2 separate regions of the Homo sapiens genome follow, and region 2 is linked to region 1. The links come from fine-mapping of genetic effects on gene expression. A gene starts in region 1. The other region holds a variant in brackets. All regions are shown on one strand. Distances are between the middles of the regions. Region 1 holds the start of LTF (lactotransferrin). Region 2 holds the start of LINC02009 (long intergenic non-protein coding RNA 2009).

Evidence for each region.
Region 2: its variant is fine-mapped to the expression of LTF in whole blood (TOPMed, PIP above 0.99).

Annotation. Positions count from the first base shown.
Region 1 is chr3:46,462,885-46,467,276 of GRCh38, reverse strand. LTF (lactotransferrin) reads left to right here and starts at 2,372. Exons shown (of 17, transcript NM_002343.6): 1 at 2,372-2,452. The coding sequence starts at 2,410.
Region 2 is chr3:46,421,217-46,425,608 of GRCh38, reverse strand. It overlaps LINC02009 (long intergenic non-protein coding RNA 2009), which reads left to right and starts at 1,942. Exons shown (of 5, transcript NR_151704.1): 1 at 1,942-2,064; 2 at 2,811-2,924; 3 at 4,117-4,236. The variant A/G (reference allele first, on the strand shown) is at 2,308.

The DNA of each region.
Region 1 (4,392 bases):
TCTCTGTCTCTCATGGCATCTACCAGTTCTGGCATGAATGAATGAATGAATGAATGAATGAATGCTGTTAATAGATCAGTGAAACTTCATTGTTTTTTGGGGCAGACTCATCCCCTACATCAGCCTCCTCTGCAAATGGCCTTGAGGGGCTGCTCTGCCTGTGTCCAGATGCTCACATCCCTGCCCTGGGGCTGGGCTGTTCCAACAGGCACAGCAGGAAAACAGTCTGCCCTGTTGCCTACCCATGCTGCCTTCAGGGCACTCCTTAAGCTGAGCCTCTTGGTAGTGGCCCCAGGTTCTCTGTGTTCTTGCCAACACTGTAACATACTTAAGAGGGCCCAGGGCCCTCTGACCTCCCAGTCATCCTTTTTTAAAATTTGGACTCAGAAAAAGAGACACGGGTTATGATGTTTCTTAATTCTTTTATAATGATGAAAAGGCAAAGTCTTGTTGCCAATTTAGGTACAAAGATGCTTCAGCACTCCTGGGAATTAGTCAATTTTGTATTTCTTCAGTATTTTTGAAAGAACTTATTGCAATTATTGATGATGGCAACTTTAAATGGTGCAATATCATGTTTCCAAACAATGAGAGACCTTGGATCTGTCACCCCAAAACCCAGCTGGTGATTCTAGCACCAAATCTCAGACCCCAGTCTCATGGCAGGCAAGCATGATCCCTGATTAGCCTCCACCCTGTGCCTTGGCAGGATCATGCCCAGAAATGGAGGGGCTCCCCAGCCTCCTTAATGGCCTCTCCACCTTGGGCTGAGCCTGCTTCTCCATGGCTAGGTGCCCACTGCATGCTCACTCTTGGCAGAGCTGGCTCCCTGGGGCATTGCCTATCTGCTCCAGGAAATGCTTTTTAGTACCAAGTAGTCTAAGCAGAGTCAAGACCAGCTTTTCAGAATAAGCAGATTTCAGAGTCACATATTGGTCAGACTCACCTGCCAAGAAAGGTGTTCAGGTGACCTATTATTTCCCTCACTGTTAGTACCTTTTTTCTTCACTTAGTTACCCTTTTTTTTTTTGGTGGGGGTTACAGAGTCTTACTCTATTGCCCAGGCTGCAGTGCAGTGACATGATCATGGCTCACTGCCACCTTCATCTCCCAGGCTCAAATGGTCCTCCCACTTTAGCCTCCCAAGTAGCTGGGACCATAGGCATACACCACCATGCTGGGCTAATTTTTGTATTTTTTGTAGAGATGGGGGTTTCCCTATGTTGCCCAGGCTAGTCTTGAACTCCTGGGCTCAAGCGATCCTCCCATCTTGGCCTCCCAAAGTGCTGGGATTACAGGCATGAGCCACTGTGCCCTGCCTAGTTACTCTTGGGCTAAGTTCACATCCATACACACAGGATATTCTTTCTGAGGCCCCCAATGTGTCCCACAGGCACCATGCTGTATGTGACACTCCCCTAGAGATGGATGTTTAGTTTGCTTCCAACTGATTAATGGCATGCAGTGGTGCCTGGAAACATTTGTACCTGGGGTGCTGTGTGTCATGGGAATGTATTTACGAGATGTATTCTTAGAAGCAGTATTCTAGCTTTTGAATTTTAAAATCTGACATTTATGGCGATTGTTAAAATGAGGTTACCATTTCCTACTGAATACTATCAACACCAAAAAAGAAGAAGGAGGAGATGGAGAAAAAAAAGACAAAAAAAAAAAAAAGTGGTAGGGCATCTTAGCCATAGGGCATCTTTCTCATTGGCAAATAAGAACATGGAACCAGCCTTGGGTGGTGGCCATTCCCCTCTGAGGTCCCTGTCTGTTTTCTGGGAGCTGTATTGTGGGTCTCAGCAGGGCAGGGAGATACCCCATGGGCAGCTTGCCTGAGACTCTGGGCAGCCTCTCTTTTCTCTGTCAGCTGTCCCTAGGCTGCTGCTGGGGGTGGTCGGGTCATCTTTTCAACTCTCAGCTCACTGCTGAGCCAAGGTGAAAGCAAATCCACCTGCCCTAACTGGCTCCTAGGCACCTTCAAGGTCATCTGCTGAAGAAGATAGCAGTCTCACAGGTCAAGGCGATCTTCAAGTAAAGACCCTCTGCTCTGTGTCCTGCCCTCTAGAAGGCACTGAGACCAGAGCTGGGACAGGGCTCAGGGGGCTGCGACTCCTAGGGGCTTGCAGACTAGTGGGAGAGAAAGAACATCGCAGCAGCCAGGCAGAACCAGGACAGGTGAGGTGCAGGCTGGCTTTCCTCTCGCAGCGCGGTGTGGAGTCCTGTCCTGCCTCAGGGCTTTTCGGAGCCTGGATCCTCAAGGAACAAGTAGACCTGGCCGCGGGGAGTGGGGAGGGAAGGGGTGTCTATTGGGCAACAGGGCGGGGCAAAGCCCTGAATAAAGGGGCGCAGGGCAGGCGCAAGTGGCAGAGCCTTCGTTTGCCAAGTCGCCTCCAGACCGCAGACATGAAACTTGTCTTCCTCGTCCTGCTGTTCCTCGGGGCCCTCGGTGAGTGCAGGTGCCTGGGGGCGCGAGCCGCCTGATGGGCGTCTCCTGCGCCCTGTCTGCTAGGCGCTTTGGTCCCTGTGTCCGGTTGGCTGGGCGCGGGGTCTCTGCGCCCCGCGGTCCCAGCGCCTACAGCCGGGAGGCGGCCCGGACGCGGGGCCAGTCTCTTTCCCACATGGGGAGGAACAGGAGCTGGGCTCCTCAAGCCGGATCGGGGCACGCCTAGCTCTGCTCAGAGCTTCTCAAAAGGCCTCCCAGGCCCCTGTCCCTTTGTGTCCCGCCTAAGGATTTGGTCCCCATTGTATTGTGACATGCGTTTTACCTGGGAGGAAAGTGAGGCTCAGAGAGGGTGAGCGACTAGCTCAAGGACCCTAGTCCAGATCCTAGCTCCTGCGAGGACTGTGAGACCCCAGCAAGACCGAGCCTTTATGAGACTTAGTTTCTTCACTTAAAGAAACGGCCTAACCATGGGTCCACAGGGTTGTGAGGAGGAGATGGGGCATTCGCACACCTTCCGTGGCAGAGGGTTGTGGAGGGGTGCGGTGCTCCTGATGGAACCCTGTGTCAGAGGGTTTGAGAGGGAAATGTCAGCCAAACAGAAGGAAGGAGTAGAAGGAAGGAAACAATTGTCAGTTCCATAACCAAAGTAATTTCTCGGGTGCTCAGAGGGCACTCCCCAGCGCTGCACATTAGTGACCTAAATGCGTGAGTGCGGAGCTCCCTGCAGCACCGGGAGGGGAAGGTCCCAGGCCGCAGCAGAAAGGGCTGTGATGGGCATCAGGACCTAGGCAGTGGGAGGGGCACAGTGAAAGCCCAGGTGTCACACCTCCCCAGCCCAGTGCAGCCTCCACTTGTCTTACGGCATCTACCTAAGGCTGGGAGCTTCCTGGATGGAAGAGGTGGCGGTGGATAGAGAGCAGCAGTGGGAGCCCAAACCCATCCTTGTCCCTGCCCTTCTGGTCTCCTGCTCCAAATTCCTTCCCATGGGTGTTGGTCATCCTTCTCTTCTCTAAGACAGATTGGGACTGGCCAGGACCCGACTGTTCTCTTCCCCTCAAGCTCCCTGGCGAGTGGCCTGTTGCACAGGGTTAGGGCCACCTGGGAGGGGCAGGAGAGGAAGGAAGCCTTGCCTTCCTGGAAGTGGTCATGGGCTGTGGTCCAGGATTCTGGCTCAGAGTTGCACCACTGGGTTTTATATTCACTTGGATCTTTAGTTGTTTTGGCGCCTACTGAGGTCTGAAGTTTGAATCCTGCAGTCAATTGGGATGGTGGCTTGTACCCCAAAGTGCCATTGCAACCCTTGTCCTTCCTGAGGAAAGGGTGGCAGTTGCCCTGTGGAATTCCTGCCCTGCTCCCCGTGGGTGTCCAGGCTGACAGAAGTTGGGTGAGTGGGGCCAGCTGGATCTAAGCCGTGTGAGCATTGGGTGGAGGAGTCTGTCTGCTTAGCCCTGGAGCCATGGGCTGGGAGGCACTCATGAGGTTTCCCATCAGTCTGAGCAGTCTGCTTGGGCCCTATCATGAGCTGTGTGGGTAGGTGGGGAGAGTAACTCCTGTCCTGGCCCCTGCCTTGGAGGCCAGCGCACTGCATGTCTGCCCAGAATGTGTGTTTTGGCCAGTGTCCAGCCAGGTCCAGTGGGCAGCATCTGAGTGCCTGACACTGAATACAAGTGTGGGGTTGAAGATTTTGGAGGGGCCAGACCTAGACCTGCTTCAGGGGGTCACATAGCTCCAGAGCTGGGAGGTAAGAGCTTGTGGGTCACACAGCTCCAGAGCTGGGAGGTAAGAGCGTGGAGACTTCACCTGGTGTTTGGGGGGCTGGGGACTGGGAATCCTGGAAGGGAGCTCAGCGGTCCTTTAGTCACTCTGGTTCAGCTCCTCTTAGGGGAAGAAATGAACTCTGCCCACAGGTTCCCGTCATTGCTCAGCCCCCACCTCCGGCTTGA
Region 2 (4,392 bases), 42 kb after region 1:
GCAGGCCTCTTCCCCAGCATGTGTGTTCACTTTTTTTTTTTTTTTGAGGCAGGATCTCACTCTGTTGCCCAGGATGGAGTGCACCGGAGCGATCACAGTTCACTGCAGGTTCAACTTCCCCGGTTCAGGTGATCCTCCCACCTCAGCCTCCTGATAGCTGGGACTATAGGTGCAGGTCATGCGGTGTCTCATGCCTGTAATCCCAGCACCTTGGGAAGCTGAGGTGGGTGGATTACTTGAGTCCAGGAATTTGAGAGCAGCGTGGGCAACATGGCAAAACTCCATGTCTACAAAAAATACAAAATAATTAGCCATGCATTCACTTCTGAGGGAAAAGTCATGGACTTTGTGGTGCTGTGAACCCCATGTCACTCATACCAGAAAGAACATTGTGTGCTTTGGGGTCTTGGGAAAGCTGACTGACCACCTGAGGTGATGCATACTTATTTTTTTATTTATTTTTATTTTACTATTATTATTTTTTGAGACAGAATCTCACTCTGTTGCCCAGGATGGAATGCAGTGGTGCGACCTCGGCTCACTGCAACCTCCGCCTCCTGGGTTCAAGCGATTCTCCTGCCTCAGTCTCTCCAGTAGCTGGGATTACAGGTGCCTGCCACCATGCCGAGCTTAATATTTGTAGTTTTAGTAGAGACGGGGTTTCACCATGACTGCCAGGCTGGTCTTAAACTCCTGACCTCAAGTGATCCACCTGTCTCCACCTCCCAAAATGCTGGAATTATAGGCTTGAGCCACTGCGCCCAGCCAATGCATACATTTTTCCTCAGGAGATTAGCTTTTACCAGCAAAGGGCGTTCAGAATCAGTTAGCTGACCATTGTTTTCTGAAGTAATCACAGGCCAGTCCCTAGTGGGAGAAAGAAGTGGCCTCTGTAGCAGGACACCTGGAGCTCAGCCCCAGCTCTGCTGTGTGGCTGTGTGACCTTGGGTAAGTCCCTTAACTTTGCTGGGCTCAGCTTTCTTTGTAGGCAAAATCAGGGGCTTGAGCTTGTTCTCTCTACAGCTCTCCTACAGATTGAGTCTGTCTGCAATCACAAGGAGCAGGAGAGGAAGAGACTTAAAATGTGTTATTGTGGTCAGCAGCTATGGGCTGAATGTTTATGTCCCCTCCCAGCCATTCTACTCTTTAGCTTAGAGCTATTCTCCACATGGGACCCAGTGGGTCCATGAGGTCAAACTATTTTAATGATGATACTCAGAAGTTATTTATCTCTCTCCTTATTTTACGAGTAGAATTTTCCAAAGGTTATTTGGCATTTGACAGTCTAACAGATTGGATGGAGAACAAGACAGAGAATCCAGCTTCTGGCCAGAAGTGGTGGCTCACACCTGTAATCTCAGCACTTTGGGAGACCGAGGCAGGAGGATCACTTGAGCTTAGGAGCTCGAGACCACCCTGGCCAGCATGGCAAGATCCCATCTCTACCAAAAAATATAGAAATTAGCTCGCATGGTGATGTGCGCCTGTGGTCTCAGCTACTTGGGAGGCTGAGGTGGGACGATTCCAAGGATCACTGTTGTTGCTAATTTTTTTTCTTTTAAAAAATACAGATATTTTTAATAAAAGTATGTTAATTATGTTAACCTGTAATGGGCTTATTATTTCAAAATCAATTAACAATGTAAATATTTAAAACTTCTGTGTTAAAATTTCTAATAGTATAAATAGCAGTAGATTTAGCCCACTCTAAGGGAGATGGTTGTGCTTTAGTCAGGAGTAGGCCGAGGCAGCCTTCTGGTGCAGCATGACTCAGTGGGTTTGGAGGCAGGCACACAACTCCACACATTATGTAACCATGCCATGTGAGGTGCATTAGGTGACCACTCATATGAGCACGTGCTTGGCTCAAAGCCACTATTGTCTGTAAAAGGTAAAATTACCCTGCTGACACTACATATGGCTTGCACCCAGAGAGAGAATAAAGCCATGTCGAAACCGCCTACTCGAGTGTTTTTCCAGTTACCTGCCACCCACCCACCAACTCCCCTTGGACTTTAGTTTGGGCTAGAACCTGACAATTGGCATCACGAACAGGATCCTAAGGTAAGTGAGCCTTCGGTCCCTGCTGATTCCAGGTTGGCCATGTGACCACAACATGGGTTGTGGTACCCGGTGGTAGCCGTGCTGTGAGGGTGGGCCTGAGTGGAAACCTGGGTGGCAGTAGATGGGTCCCCCATGAGCATGGAGAAGGCGCTGAAGCAGCTGGAAGTGCAGAGCACCAAGAAGGAGAGAGCCTTTGCTGGCAGAGTTGGATGGGCATTTTTAACTGTGCTAAGAAAAGTACAC[A/G]CCCAGTCCCTGAGGGATGCAGACTGGAGGTCTGGCTACACCGATCTGGAAAATAATTAGAGGCTGCCATGAATGGGGACCTCCAGGTGCAGGCAGGATGCCTGGAGGTGTGGCTTCAGAGCTTGGAAAAGGAATTAGAGGCTACCATGAATGCAGGCCTGGGTCCATCATCTTGTCTGGAGATCCCCACTCAGTTTCATACCAAGGAGGAAGAACCCCTGTTGCGGGCTCACCCGGTGGTCTGACAGAAGGTAGATCATGAACAGCCACTGGGGCTCCAAGGGTGGACTCAGGGACTCCCCACCATAATGCAACACATTTCGTATATTGCCTGTACCCCAACTGAGTTGCAGGAATTAGGCAAGCAGTGTTGCCAGTGTCCAGGGGAACCCCTGCCTGCCTGGATGCTTCGTCTGTGGAACAAGGGAGCAGATGGTATCTCCCATTCCACCTCTGAGATGGACAAGCTGGCCTCCACCATGACTCACCCCTCTCTCTGTCAGCGGCTGCAAGTGAGCAGGTGGTTAGTGGCAGCGCAAGGAGACCACACCCTGACTGAGTGGCTACAGGCAGCCATATGAACTGTGTGGAATAATGCTGGTGAAATGCCCAAAACTGTGAGTAAATGGCAGTCATATGCCAATTTGGTGTAAGTCATTCGGGAGATGGGTATGCGGCAGGCTATGTTTGTCCTGAATACCTGAGGGCCAGATGATAAATGTTTCACCTCCCACATGAGGGATCTCATGTTGGGTTTGATGCTCCTGAGCCCCTTTGGCTCCCTAGCTGCTGTCCTCACCCCATACGTAGGGCACCGCATACATGAAGTAACCACTGCCATGGCGGCTCTCAGGGAAGCAGAAGGCCTTCAGGGGGATTGGAGGGTCCACACCATAAAGAAGGGGAAGTTACCCCACCCACAGGGGGCTCCCCCATAAAAAAAGGGGGCCCCAACGAGTGACACGCTCACAGATGTGGATAGATTTGATTTTGGCTGGGGTTGACTGAGAGAAAATTGATAAGCAGCCCAATGAAATACTCCTAACTTTGCGGAGACAGTTGTATGCAGGGCAGCAATTCCGGAAAATGCCCAAAGGGGAGAAAGGCATTGCTGTGTGACCTGGTCCTACCCAGCTCAGAGACTACTTGCTGCAGCCAGGTGGAAATGTAGAGCCTTTTCTGTTCAACTAGGGAACTGGCCAAAGGTGTCTGGCTTGGGGGGACACCAGATGACCAGAGGCCACATGTGGAATTGGCAATCCACTGGTCCCCCACCAATGTACAGTGGGTGCTGGTGCTGGTAGATACTGGCATAGATTGTAGCCTTGTTTATGGGAACCCAGTTAAGTTTTTGGGCAAATCTGCATATATTAAAGGTTACGGAGGCCAGTCAGTGAAAGTGAAACCTGTATCTCTGTACCTTGGCATTGGCCACTTGGCTCCTTGCTTATACACTGTGTATGTCTCTCCCATACCTGAATACATTCTGGAGGTGGATATTTTACATGGCTTGGAAGCTGTGCCATCTATCATGGATTTGATGAACCACTCGACAATGGAATTAGGACAGTACCACTATGTGGTGGACTTGGCCAATGCATTCTTCTCAGTTGACCTTGCTCTAGAGAGCCAGGAACAGTTTGCCTTGATGACAATGGACTTTCACAGTGTTGCTGCAGGGCTATGTGCATAGCTCCACCATATGTCATGGTCTTGTTGCCATGGATTTAACAGCCTGAAAATGTCCAAAGGGAGTCCACTTGTTCCATTACGTTGATGATATTATGTTAACCTCTGATTCTCTTGCAGATTTAGAAGCAGTGGCACCCCTCTTGTGGCAACATTTGGCAGCATGCAGTTGGGCCATCAACAAATCCAAGGTCCGAGGGCCTGGATTACCTGCTAAATTCTTGGGAGTTATCTGGTCGGGTAAGATGAAGGCCATACAAGAGGCTATCATTGACAAAATTTAGGCATATCCCTGGCCCACCACGGTGAGGCAGCTGCAAACTTTTGTGAGCCTCCTGGGATATTGGTGGACATTCCTGCCTCATTTAGCTCAAATGATAAAACCATTGTATCAGT